Linked DNA regions of Homo sapiens: regions 2 and 3 are each linked to region 1. Evidence: fine-mapped expression QTL. A gene starts in region 1. Each other region holds a variant in brackets. All regions are shown on one strand. Distances are between the middles of the regions.

Evidence for each region. PIP is the estimated chance that this variant, and not a neighbour inherited with it, causes the effect.
Region 2: its variant is the best candidate, but not a certain one, in a credible set for the expression of NAAA in monocytes after LPS (Fairfax 2014, PIP 0.63).
Region 3: its variant is the best candidate, but not a certain one, in a credible set for the expression of NAAA in monocytes after interferon gamma (Fairfax 2014, PIP 0.60).

The regions. Positions count from the first base shown.
Region 1 is chr4:75,939,404-75,943,642 of GRCh38, forward strand. NAAA (N-acylethanolamine acid amidase) reads right to left here and starts at 1,610. Exons shown (of 11, transcript NM_014435.4): 1 at 1,341-1,610; 2 at 598-762. The coding sequence starts at 1,546. RefSeq lists silencers at 893-962, 1,363-1,832.
Region 2 is chr4:75,892,835-75,897,073 of GRCh38, forward strand. PPEF2 (protein phosphatase with EF-hand domain 2) reads right to left here. Exons shown (of 17, transcript NM_006239.3): 2 at 3,437-3,549. The coding sequence starts at 3,491. Among named protein-coding and RNA genes, the nearest start is that of PPEF2, 7.5 kb to the right of the region's middle. The variant A/ATTT (reference allele first, on the strand shown) is at 2,293.
Region 3 is chr4:75,910,088-75,914,326 of GRCh38, forward strand. It overlaps NAAA (N-acylethanolamine acid amidase), which reads right to left. Exons shown (of 11, transcript NM_014435.4): 11 at 3,573-4,239. Among named protein-coding and RNA genes, the nearest start is that of PPEF2, 9.8 kb to the left of the region's middle. RefSeq lists an enhancer at 1-429. The variant T/C (reference allele first, on the strand shown) is at 1,616.

The DNA of each region.
Region 1 (4,239 bases):
TTTGAGCAGAATTTTTTTTTTTTTTTTTTTGAGACAGAGTCTCGCACTGTCGCCAGGGCTGGTGTGCAGTGGCGCGATCGCGGCTCGCTGCAACCTCCGCCTCCCGGGTTCAAGTGATTCTCCTGCCTCAACCTCCTAAGTAGCTGGGATTACAGGCGCCCACCACCACGCCTGGCTAATTTTTTGTGTTTTTCGTAGAGACGGGGTTTCACTATGTTGGCCAGGCTGATCTCGAACTCCTAACCTCGTGATCTGCCCACCTTGGCCTCCCAAAGTGCTGGGATTACAGGTGTGAGCCAACGCGCCCGGCCTTTGAGCAGAATTTTAAAAGTACGCTACCTGGATTGGGGAAGAGAAAACCCGGGGCTACACGTAGAGGGAAAGTTTAGTGTTGAATCGGAGAATCTGCTTTCCCTCTCGAAGCCTACGATGTGCAGCTCAGATTTACCCAGAGAGGCAAAGAGGAAGCGCTGGAGGTTTCTAGGCAAGCAGGCACCGCCCTGTTTTTATCACACGGAAAATATGTCTCCTCCCGCTAGTCTGTGTCGGGGGCCCCCGCAAGCCCCGCGTTACTCCGCGCGGGCTTGGGGCACTCACACGGAGGACTCGTAGGCCAGGTTGACCAGAAGGCAGTCCGCCAGGCTGAGGTTCATGAAGTCACACATGCCGCGGATCTCGCCGGTGAAGGGCTGGGGCAGGAAGCGCTCCAGCTCCAGGACCACTTTTCCGATTAACACGTGCACCCACTTGGGGACTCTGTCCCTAGAAACAAAAAGCACAAGGGCGTCTGACCCGCTCAGAGGTCGGCGGCGTGCGACTGCGTGTGCACTGCGAGCGGGGCTACATCCTTAGGGCGTGAGGTCTCAGGGCCACTGCTCCCCAGTCAGTGGACCGCCCAGGCGCGGCGTCACTCAATCTGCAGCCTCCCGGGAGTGGGGGGAAGGGGGCGGGGGGAAGGCGGCGGGTAAGAAAACTCCGAATGGGGAGGGCGAGTGAGGCTGGTCCCAAAGGGGCAAGCTTGGAAGGCCCGCGAGGCCCGCAAGGAAGGCGCGGGTTGCCCCTCCTTGGTAGCTATGCAGCCCGGGCGACAACTCGCGCGCCACGCTGACCCGGAATGGCTCAAGGACTGGCGTGCCACGGGTGACACCGAACTTGAAAGCCGAACCTGCCGCGCTGGATTCTCCCCAACCCGGACGCTGCTCAGGGCGGCAGCCAAAACCAGTTCTCCAAGGGTGGCGGGGAGTAAAGCGTCCCCGTTTAAAGCACTCTGAGCAGCGCGCGTTTGACTCCGACCCGCAGGGCCGGTGTCCCCGCAGACCCCGTCCAGGGCCCCAGCTCACCCGATGACTTGCGCCATCGCGGCGCGCACCAAGTCCAAGTCGTAGTGCCGCAGCACGGGCAGCCAGCGCAGCTCGGGGACCGAGTCCAGGCTCACGTTGAAGCGCGGCGCTGCTGGGGGCGAGGCGGCTGACAGCCCGGCCCCGGCCAGCAGCAGCAGCAGCAGGGACGGAAGCCCCGGGCGCGCCTCCCGGTCCGCGGTCCGCATGGCTCGGGCTCCAGCGGCCGCAACTTGGAGACCTGCAGCCGCTGTCGGAGCCCGGGTAAGCCGTGGAGGAGGAGGAGCTGGGGCTGGGCTGCGATCGCTGGAGGTGGGGCCCGCGCACGACCCGCCCGCCCCTGTCACCGGCAAGCCGGAGCGGCGACACCTCCCGTCCCCGCCGCGCATCCACTAGCCCGCCCCGACTCTCCATCGGGCCTGGAGGTCCCTGACCGCGGGGCCGCTAAGGGTTGGGGCTGCCGGCAGCCGGCTTCTCACCAACTGCCGGTTCCAGCGCACCTGCTTGGGCCGAAGGAGTGTAGGCTGCGGCCGGGAGGGGCTGTAAGATTTTCAGTAGCGAAAAGGTGTCAGGAAAGACTTTTCAGTTAAACTTTGTTTGCTTGTTTGTTTGTTTGTTTGAGATGTAGTCTCACTCTATTGCCCAGGCTGGAGTGCGGCGGCGAGATATCCGCTCACTGCCAACTCCGCCTCCTGGGTTCAAGCGATTCTCCTGCCTCAGCCTCTCAAGTAGCTGGGATTACAGGCGTCCACCACCATACCTGGCTAATTTTTGTATTTTTGGTAGGGACAGGGTTTCACCATGTTGGCCAGACTAGTCTCGAATTCCTGACCTAAGGTGATCCACCGGCCTCAGCCTCCCAAAGTGCTGGGATTACAGGCGTGAGCCACCGCGCCTGGCTGGTAAAACATTTTTTTAAAGCTCAAAATTTAGTGAACATTTATCTGCTAAATATTTTTCGCGGACATTATCTCATTTAATCATCAAAACAAGCCAACAGGTAGGTTCCACTAATCCTCGCTTTACTGATGAGGAGTGTGAGGCTTGGAGAGGTGAAGCCATGTACCCGAGGTTACTCTGCTGGTGTGTCTCTGCACTGGCCTCCAAGTAAGGAGGTCTGAATCCACAATCCACCTTCACACCTAAGTTTCTTCACCTTTGAGTTCCCAATGTCTGGGAGACAAACTTAGGAAAATCTTAGTAAGGCTGGGACATTCTTAACGGTTAGCACAGTTGTCTGTGGGTAAAACAGGGTACATGTGTACATGAATAGTAGAAACTAAATGAAAGGGCCGGGCATGGTGGCTTAGGCTTGTAATCCCAGCAGTTTGGGGGGCTGAGGCGGGTGGATCACCTGAGGTCAGAAGTTTGAGACCAGCCTGGCCAACATGGTGAAACCCTGTCTCTACTAAAAATACAAAAATTAGCCGGGCGTGGTGGTGTAATCCCAGCTACTTGGGAGGCTGAACAGGAGAACCTCTTGAACCTGGGAGGCAGAGGTTGCAGTGAGCCGAGATTGTGCCAATGCACTCTAGCCTGAGTGACAAGAGCAAAACTTTGTCTCAAAAAAAAAAAAAAAAAAAAAAAAAAAAAAAAAAAAAAAAAAAAAAACTAAATGCATAGTAGAAACTAAACACATTTTTTTTTTATTTTTTACCAATTTTAGGATGAAGAAATACAACTTTTATAATCAATCACTTGTTTTTAAGGATAACACTTAAAGGAATTACAAAATTTCTTGCCAGACATGGTGGTTCACGCCTGTCATCCCAGCACGTTGGCTGGCTGATCATCTGAGGTCACTTGGTTTAATGAATAGAATCAGAATTGCTGGTGGTTGACTTCCAAGACTAGGTCACAAAAGACACTGTGGGTTTCTCCTTGCTCTCTTGAATTGCTCACTATAGGAAGCCCATTGTCATGTCCTGAGGAAGCCCTATGAAAATGTCCCTTTGTGGCTGGACACAAATCTCAGCACTTGGAGAGTCAGGCAGGAGGACTGCTTGAGCCCAGGAATTGGAGACCAGCCTGGGCAACAGTGAGACCCCATCTCTACAAACAAATAAAAATAAATTAGCCGGGCATGGGGGCATGTATCTTTAGTCCCAGCTACTTGGTAGGCTGAGGTAGGAGGATTACTTGAGCCCAGGAATTTGAGGCTGCAGTGAACTATGATCACGCCACTGTACTCCAGCCTAAATGACAAAGTGAGACCCTGTCTCCAAAAAAGAAGTAAATAAAATTGAAAAAAAAGAAAAAAGAAAGTCCCTTTGTTGAGGAACTGAGCTTCTACCAAGAGCCAGAGAGGAACTGAGGCTTCTTGTCAAGTCATCTGAGTGAGCCATGGTGGAAGTGGACCTTCCTGCCTCAGCTAAGCCACCCCCAAATTCCTAACCCATAGAAACTGTGAAGCAGGCCGGGCATGGTGTCTCACATCTGTAATCCCAGCACTTTGGGAGGCCGAGGCGGGCAGATCACTGGAGGTCAGGAGTTTGAGACCAGCCTGACCAACATGGTGAAACTCCGTCTCTACTAAAAATATAAAAATTAGCTGGGCGTGGTGGCGGGTGCCTGTAATCCTAGCTACTCGGGAGGCTGAGGCAGGAGAATTGCTTGAACCCAGGAGATGGAGGTTGCAGTGAGCCCAGATCGCACCACTGTACTCCAGCCTGGGTGACAGTGAGACTGTCCCCCCCCGCAAAAAAAAGAAACTGTGAAATAATGTTTATCACTTTATGCCACTAAGTTTTGAGGTAATTTGGTATGTGACAAACAGATCATTAATATAGATTTGTTTGGGAACGTAACTGTAGTGCTACCATAACACATGCCTAAAAATGTATTGCTTTGGAACTGGTAGTAGGGAGAAATTGTAATAATTTTGAGCAGAATGTTAGTGAGA
Region 2 (4,239 bases), 47 kb before region 1:
CTTTTTAAGCTCCAAGGCTTAGATACACTGCTGGTGATGAATGGACTATTTGTGGATAAAGCTGGATTAGAAATCCTGCAGGCTGGATTAGAAATCCTGCAGGCTGACTCAGGTCAACCTCATAAAGAGTAGACAGATTGATTTAATATGTTTCGTTTGCATTAGACAGATAATAGAATTCTTGCTGATTTCCCTAAGAGGAAAGATGATGGTGACATGGGAAAAGAGAAGCTGGGAGGAACTTAAACAAAGATAAATTTGATTTCCTATGAAAAAAATTCATACTACTAGTATTTCTCAAAGGCACTCACTAAATAGTAAGCGATGAGGTTGAACCCCACTGACTGACTTCTGTAAAACCATGTTCAGAATAGTGAATGAGGCTGGGCGTGGTGGCTCACACCTATAATCCTAACACTTTGGGAGGCTGAGGCTGGTGGATCACCTGAGGTGAGGAGTTCAAGACCAGCCTGGCCAATATGGTGAAACCTCATCTCTACTAAAAATACAAAAATTAGCTGGGCATGGTGGCAGGCATCTGTAATCCCAGCTACTTGGGAGCCTGAGGTAGGAGAATCATTTGAACCTGGGAGGCAGAGGTTGCAGTGAGCCGAGATCGTACCACTGCACTTTAGCCTGGGCTAGAGACTCTGACACACACACACACACACACACTCACACACAAAAGAGAATAGTGAATGAAAGGTCCAGGGCTGGTGCTACAGATTCTTTAGAGATTCCTGGTAAACATGCAGGTTGCTACACCTCACCCTGGACCTGTAACATCAGAATCTCTACCGCTGGAATCCAGGAAGGAATCTGAAGGTTTAACAAGCTCCATACATAATTCATACTTGTGCTAAAGTTTAAGGACCACTGAAGAAGATCATGGACATCAATGTTGTCTGCTAACACCTTGCCCTGAGCATTCTATGGCCAGTGCTGCCAATGATGAGACATACGTATTACATCCTCAGTCTTGCTTTGGCTACTCAGGCAGCAGAAGTGGGCAACACCTTTCATTCTCCCTCTTTTTTTCTTCCTCCCGGTTGACTATCTGGTAGGGTGTGGTGGGGAGCTGGCTTGCTTTCAATTGAGATGGGCTCTGGGAAGTGCAGGATCTTTTAATATCCTTTATCCCATCATGTATTTTTAATAGCACAATGCAAAAATGTATAGGCCCCTCTTACTTGGGCCATGTGTAAACTAAATTATTAGGGTACAAGTTACAAATACACCTGGGCTGTAAAAACTCTACATATAACAACACTGTGAGAAAATTGTGAACCAAGGCAATGCACAGTAGGGTATGGGAGAATAGGTAAATTATTTAAGAAAGATAGAACAGAGAATTTTTTTGATGGTTACCCTCTTATTTTTATTATCTTTGTCAAGAATATTTATGTCTCTATATACAACACTGATTTAAAGGAAAAAAATGATGCCTCTAGGAAGAAGTACCTTTCTGTAATGGAAGTATAAGCTTGCCAAAAGGTGCAATAAAAACTTAATGAATTATGACATCCCTTTAAGGAAAATAGAGAGCCTAATATCGACTTCCAATAAGAAATGGCATGCTTAAGCAGATGTAGGACTCCCTCACACTCCAACACATTAAGAAAAGCTGCATAAAATAAGCTAAATTTCTTTTTAACCAATAGTTGAAATCAAAAGCATTGAAGGGAGATCTCCGGGTGCCAGAAATGAAGACGGAACCCATAGCCAAAGGCAGTTAGAGGCACTGAAGTCAGGCAGGCCCCAGGGGAATCTCAACCAGACACATGTCTCAGGAGCTGGGGTTTAACACCTGTATGGGGATGAGAGTGAGTTCCTGGGTTCTGTGCATGGCAGGGAGTGGTAACTGGACTGTCTGTGAAAAGGCAGGAGCTGGGGAAGTTTCTGTACCTTGCGTGATCTAATAAATCTCTGCCTACCGGCCCCTGTGGTAGCAGGAGCTGAGCTGACCTAGAACTCAGTGAGATAGAAAGTCTCAGCCTGTGGCGTGTGTGGGTTGAATTCGTGTTATTCACAAGATAAGGAAACCCTGAGCTGAAGCTAATTCCAAAATTGGTCCAAACAAGTGACAAACTGGGAAAAAATATTTGCAATTTATATCACAGTTGATATCCCTACCATATTAGAAATGATTTCACTCGGTCACCCAGGCTGGAGGGCAGTGGCATGATCATAGCTCACTGTAGGCTTGAACTCCTGTGCTCAAGCAATCCTCCCACCTCAGGCTCCTGAGTGTCTAGGACTACAGAGGTGCTCGCCACCACACCCAGCTAATTA[A/ATTT]TTTTTTTTTTTTTTTTTTTGCTGGGCATGGTGGCTCACTTCTGTAATCCCAGCACTTTGGGAGGCCGAGGCGGGCAGATCACCTGAGGTCAGGAGTTCGAGACCAGCCTGGTCAACATGGTGAAGCCCCGTCTCTACTAAAAATTCAAAAAATTAGCCGGGCATGGTGGCACCCGCCTGTAATCCCAGCTACTTGGGAGGCTGAGGCAGGAGAATCGCTTGAACCCAGGAGGCGGAGGTTGCAGTGAGCCGAGATTGTGCCATTGCAATCCAGCCTGGGCCACAGAGGGAAACTCGGTCTCAAAAACAAAAAAAAATTTTTTAGGTTGGGCACGGTGGCTCACGCCTGTAATCCCAGCACTTTGGGAAGCCGAGGCAGGCGGATCACCTGAAGTGAGAGTTCAAGACAAGCCTGGTCAACATGGTGAAACCCAGTGTCTACAAAAAACACAAAAATTAGCCAGGCGTGGTCGCGGGCGCCTGAAATCCCAGCTACTCGGGAGGCTGAGGCAGGAGAATCGCTTGAACCCAGGAAGAGGAGTTTGCAGTGAGTAGAGATCGTGCCACTGCACTCCAGCCTGGGCGACAGAGCAAGACTCCGCCTCAAAAAAAAAAAATTTTTTTTTTGTAGAGATAGGATCCTTGATCTGTCGTCCAGGCTGGTTTCAAACTCCTGGGCCCAGGTGAGATTCTCTCATCTCAGCCTTCTAAAGTGCTGGGATTACAGGTGTGACCCACAACTCCTGGCCTATTGTTTTAAAAAAAAAATTGTTAGATTGGCCACTAGAGGGAGCTCATGCTTCCTTCTTCCCACCTCATGACCTTTGGACGTGCTCTACCCTCTGCCTGGAATGTGTTTCATCCCCTCTTTGCCCAACCTTATTTCATTCATTTGTACCTGGGTAGTTTGGGATCAACCCCAATGGACAACACTAACTTCCTGAGCGAATGTTAATTCTGTCAAATATACTTCAACTGGACATTTTGGTGGGCATGTCACAAGGAGGAGAAGCTGACCTCTAAGAGCTGGCCTGAGGAGAAATTTAAGGGTTTTTCTGCTTCTACCCTCAGAACCCCCAACCCTCTCCATGCAATATGGGCTTTGTGGTACCCACAGCTGGTTTGGAAAGTGGGAAACACGTACCTCTCTCTGCATTCTGGAAAGCAAAATGATGTTGGGTGGAGGTGCCGCTTCCCATAGTTTAAGCGCAATGCTCCTGCAGGACGCAGCAGATCCAGAGGACAGTGAGCTGTTTGCTGACAAAATGAAGAGAGAATCTGTAATAGGAGATGCAGGCAGAGTATTAAATCGGGTGGGCCAAATTGTCTATGAATCATGTGAGAGTATCCTCTCCACCTCTCCAGTCTAAGTGCACAAGATGTTCCTCCCCTGAGAGTTCCCTCCATTTGTCATTCCCTAGGTCTCCCGTTTTCAACCTTTCCACTGCCTTTTCCTTTCAGTCTAGAAACATACTGAAATCTCTTATTTTGCATTCTCAAAGCAATTCATCCGCCACCTCCTCCTCCCTTGACCTCCTATATTCCTCTAACTGTCACCCAACCTCTCTTGTCTTCTCATCCAGATTTATCTCAAGGGTAGACTACAGTTTTCTCTTTACTTCCTCTCAAAATCACCTTTTTCATCCTCACTATTGATCAAAGCCTTTCCTGATGCCTCTAATGTCTTCATCTTTTCAGTCCTTACCTTGCCAGAACAGCAAGGCCATCTGTCTCCATAGGCCACACCTTTCTTTCTTTCTTTCTTTCTTTTTTGAGACAGAGTCTTTCTCTGTCACCCAGGCTGGAGTAGTGCAGTGGCACAATCTTGGCTCCCTGCGAGCTCCGCCTCCTGGGTTCACGCCATTCTCACCCCCTCAGCCTCCCGGTTAATTTTGTTTTTGCATTTTTAGTAGAGACGGGGTTTCGCTGTGTTAGCCAGGATGGTCT
Region 3 (4,239 bases), 29 kb before region 1:
TAGAGACAGGGTTTCACCATATTGGCCAGGTTGGTCTCGAACTTCTGACCTTGTGATCCACCTGCCTCGGCCTCCCAAAGTGCTGGGATTATAGGCGTGAGCCACCACGCCCAGCCTTAAACAACATTTTTTTTAGAGACAAGGTCTTGCTATGTTGGCCAGGCTAGTCTCAAACTCCTGGGCTTAAGCACTCCTCAGCCTCCCGAGTAACTGGGATTACAGATGTGAGCAACTGTGCCTGTCTGTCTTCTTTTTAAAGGATGAATAATATTCCACTGTGTGTACATACCACATTTTCTTTATCCATTCATGCCTAGATGGACATTTAGATTGTTGATAAGAGTGTTACTTTCCTCCTGATATTGGAAGGACATCTTCCAAATGGAGATTTTATCTCTTGTTTTCAGGAAGAAAATGGGGAGGGTCAGAGTGAATTTCTTTTCCCTGCTGGTTTTGTAAGTGCCTTTAGCTCAAAATAGTCCTTATACCAAAGTGGCATATTTGGGGTAGTGTGTTCTGAGCTCCTTCAGCATACTTAAAGTTCAGGAGAAAAGACACAAGAGAATGTAGGTGAGCAATTCTGAGATAGCTGACTATTTTCCAAAATTGAACAAAAGACACAAACTTGAAATTTGGGGAGCACAACAAATCCCAAGCAGGCTTAAACAAAATTCAATATCTGGACACATTGTAGTTAAACCACGTGACACTGTTATCACTGTCACACACATCTGTGTGAAGAGACCACCAAATAGGCTTCATGTGAGCAATAAAGCTTTTTAATCACCTGGGTGCACGTGGGCTGAGTCCAAAAAAGGAGTCAGCAAAGGGTGGTAGGATTATCATTAGTTCTTATAGGTTTGGGATAGACGGTGGAGTTCGGAGCAATTTTTTGCAGGCAGGAAGTGGATCTTACAAAGTACATTCTCAAGGGCGGAGAGGATATTACAAAGTACCTTCTCAAGGGTGGGGAGGGTGTATCGTACAAAGTACATTCACAAGGGCGGGGGAATATCACAAAGTACATTATTGCAAGGGTGGGGAGGGTGTCTTGTCACAAAGTCAATTGATCAGTTAGGGTGGGGCAGGAACAAATCACAATGGTGAAATGTCATCAGTTAAGGCAGGAACTGGCTATTTTCTCTTCTTTTGTGGATCTTCAGTTGCTTCAGGCCATCTGGATGTATACGTGCAGGTCACAGGGCATATGATGGCTTAGCTTGGGCTCAGAGGCCTGACAATCACCTGATGGGTTCTTCTTGCTCACTGCACAGACAAAACCAATTCACTGAGATCATACTATTGCAGTAGAGAAAGAGTTCAATTAACAGTCCTAGCAGGAGCATGGATGTTATTACTCAAATCAGTCTCTCCAAGAACTCAGAGGCTAGGGTTTTAATGGATAATTTGGTGAGCTGGGGGCTAAGGAAGGGGGTTGCTGATTGGGGATGAAATTACAGGGGTATGGAAAACAGTCTTTATGCACTGAGTATGCCCTTTGGGTGAGGGCCACAGGACTAGTTGACTCATGGTCACAGGTCCTGGTGGGGTCCAGTGGTTGCCAGAATGCAAAAGTCTGAAAAACATCTCAAAAGACCAATCTTAGGTGCTATAG[T/C]AGTGATGTTCTCTACAGGAACAATTGGGGAAGTCACAAATCTTTGACTTCTAGCCACATGACTCCTGAGCAGTAAGGGATTATAGAAACTACGCCTACATTTAGCAGAATTCGGGTTCTTCCCATAATCCTAATCTCATAGCCTTCCATTAGTTTTACAAAGGTGGCTTTACTCCCTAGCAGGGCAGAGGTTAGTCTGAGGGTGGGGTTATTATCATCCTTTCTTTAAAGTTAAACTCTAAACTAAATTCCTCCCACGATTAGCTTGGTCTGTGCCCAGGAACGAGCAAGGACAGCCAGCCTGTGAGGCTAGAAGGAAGATGGAGTCAGCCATGCTAGACTTCTCTCACTGTCATCATCTTTGCAAAGGCGGTTTCAACAAAAAGGACAAATATCTGAAAAGCAACTAGAGTGTTGGATTACTTAAATCATTTTCCTGAGGAACAGCCCTCAATGCCTTCGCTTTGCCTGGTTAAAATTAGGGTATTCCCCAAATTTCCGAAGATCATGGCATATTTTCAAGAAAACAAAAATGGAATAAGACTAATAAGTAGAAATTTAGCCTGGCCAGGCTGGGCGCGGTGGCTCACGCCTGTAATCCCAGCACTTTGGGAGGCCAAGGAGGGCAGATCATGAGGTCAGGAGTTCGAGACCAGCCTGACCAACGTGGTGAAACCCTGTCTCTACTAAAAACACCAAAAATTAGCCGGGCATGGTGGCACACGCCTGTAATCCCAGCTACTCGGGAGGCTGAGGCAGTAGAATCGCTTGAACCCAGGAGGCGGAGGTTGCAGTGAGCCGAGATCGTGCCATCGCACTCCAGCCTGGGTGACAGAGGGAGACTCTGTCTGGAAAAAAAAAAAAAAAAAGAAATTTAGCCTGGCCAACATGGCAAAAGCCCATTTCTACTAAAAATACAGAATAAGCTGGGCATAGTGGCACATGCCGGTAATCTCAGCTACTCAGGAGGCTGAGACACAAGAATCGCTTGAACCCTGGAGGCAGAGTTTGCAGTGGGCCGAGATTGCACCACTGCACTCCAGTTTGGGTGGTGGAACAAGACCCTGTCTCAAAAAAAAAAAGACTAATGAGTAGAAATTTCTAGTTTCAATGGCTGTGTGATGTGTGATACAGCTGGCATGAGTAAACTACTTCTCATATTTGATTTTTAAAAGGGCATTGGATGATGAAAATTAAACGGTATTTATACGACACTGTCCAAGAAGAAACACGAATATTCTGGGCCACTAGAGACGTCTGCAGTATGTCAGGGGAGCGATGTTCTGTACCTGGATAACACTTCCTTCTAGACATTCTACTCACTATGCCAAAGGAAAAGTTAAGCCTGGGAACCGAGACACTCCAAAACTGCCTTCCTTTTGTTCCCAAACATAGCTGTAATTTCACACGGTTGCTTTATCTTATGTAAAATGTAGATTTACTGAGCACGAGATAAATGCATCATTGACTTTCCCTCCATTCCCTTGTTTTCATGTGCTAAATGTAGATTCACTGAGCACCAATAATAAGAGCTCACAAGAATGTAACCATTTGCCTCACTGTCTACCCTCTTTTTATCCCCCGCTCCTGCTTGCTCTTTCCCCTTTAAATACCGAAGTTCCTCAAACCCTCTTTGGGAAAAGCACAGGACAGGTCCTCCTGTGACTGGTGTTTCTTTTTCCCGGGCACATCCTTAGCCTTGGCAAAATAACTCTCTCATGGACTGAGTGCTGCTTCAGGCACATTTTCGTTTACACTTTTAACCTTTTCTGACTTCATCCTCAAGGACATTTCTTTCATGCACATGTGAAAAATCAAACTCTACCAAGCAGCTGTTCATTCCCTTGAATGCTGACACTTAAATAACATCACAACTAAGAGAGTTGCTTTCTCAGGACAGCAGTTCAGAACCATAAGACTTCGGAGGTAAAGAAAGCAGGGAGAGCATAACGCTAAGTTTCTTGGAAATTTTTTTATTCTCCTTGCCAACATTTCTTTTGACATTTTATTACTTAATTATGTGACATTAAGAAATAATTTGGTTGCATATTATTTTCAAAAAGCAGTAAGAAAGTAGCTATTGAGAAAGAAGGAGGGCCATAGGTTTTTCAATAAAACGTTAGAAACATTATAAAAAACGAGACTCCCATTACATGGAAACACATGATCAAAGATCAGACTAACACACATTCAAACAGGCTTGGTTCGAAATAGAGTTCTCCATTTCTTTCAGATGAGCCTTTTTTCTTAGGCTCTTTCAGAAGCACTTCACAATGAACAGAGGTCTTGCCAGCTCATTTCATTAGCGGAGAAGCAAAGGTATGATGGCAGAATCATGAGAAGATGGAAATAAGGCCTGAGGATATGGCTTGATCTCTGAGACCAATTATCTTTGAGTTATTCAGGCCAGGATAGAAGCTTAGAGAGGATCGAGGCAAACCATGAAGGGAAGGGAATGCAGGACAATGCCCATTACTGGCTTTACCACAAACTCCAAATCTCCTGGACCCACTTCGCAAGGTTGTAAAGTTAAATGAGGAAGGAGCCTGCATTGTTTGTAACATAATACAATACTTTCACTTTGTCTTATTTTTTAAGGTGCAGCTCTTCAAGAATTTCATTTT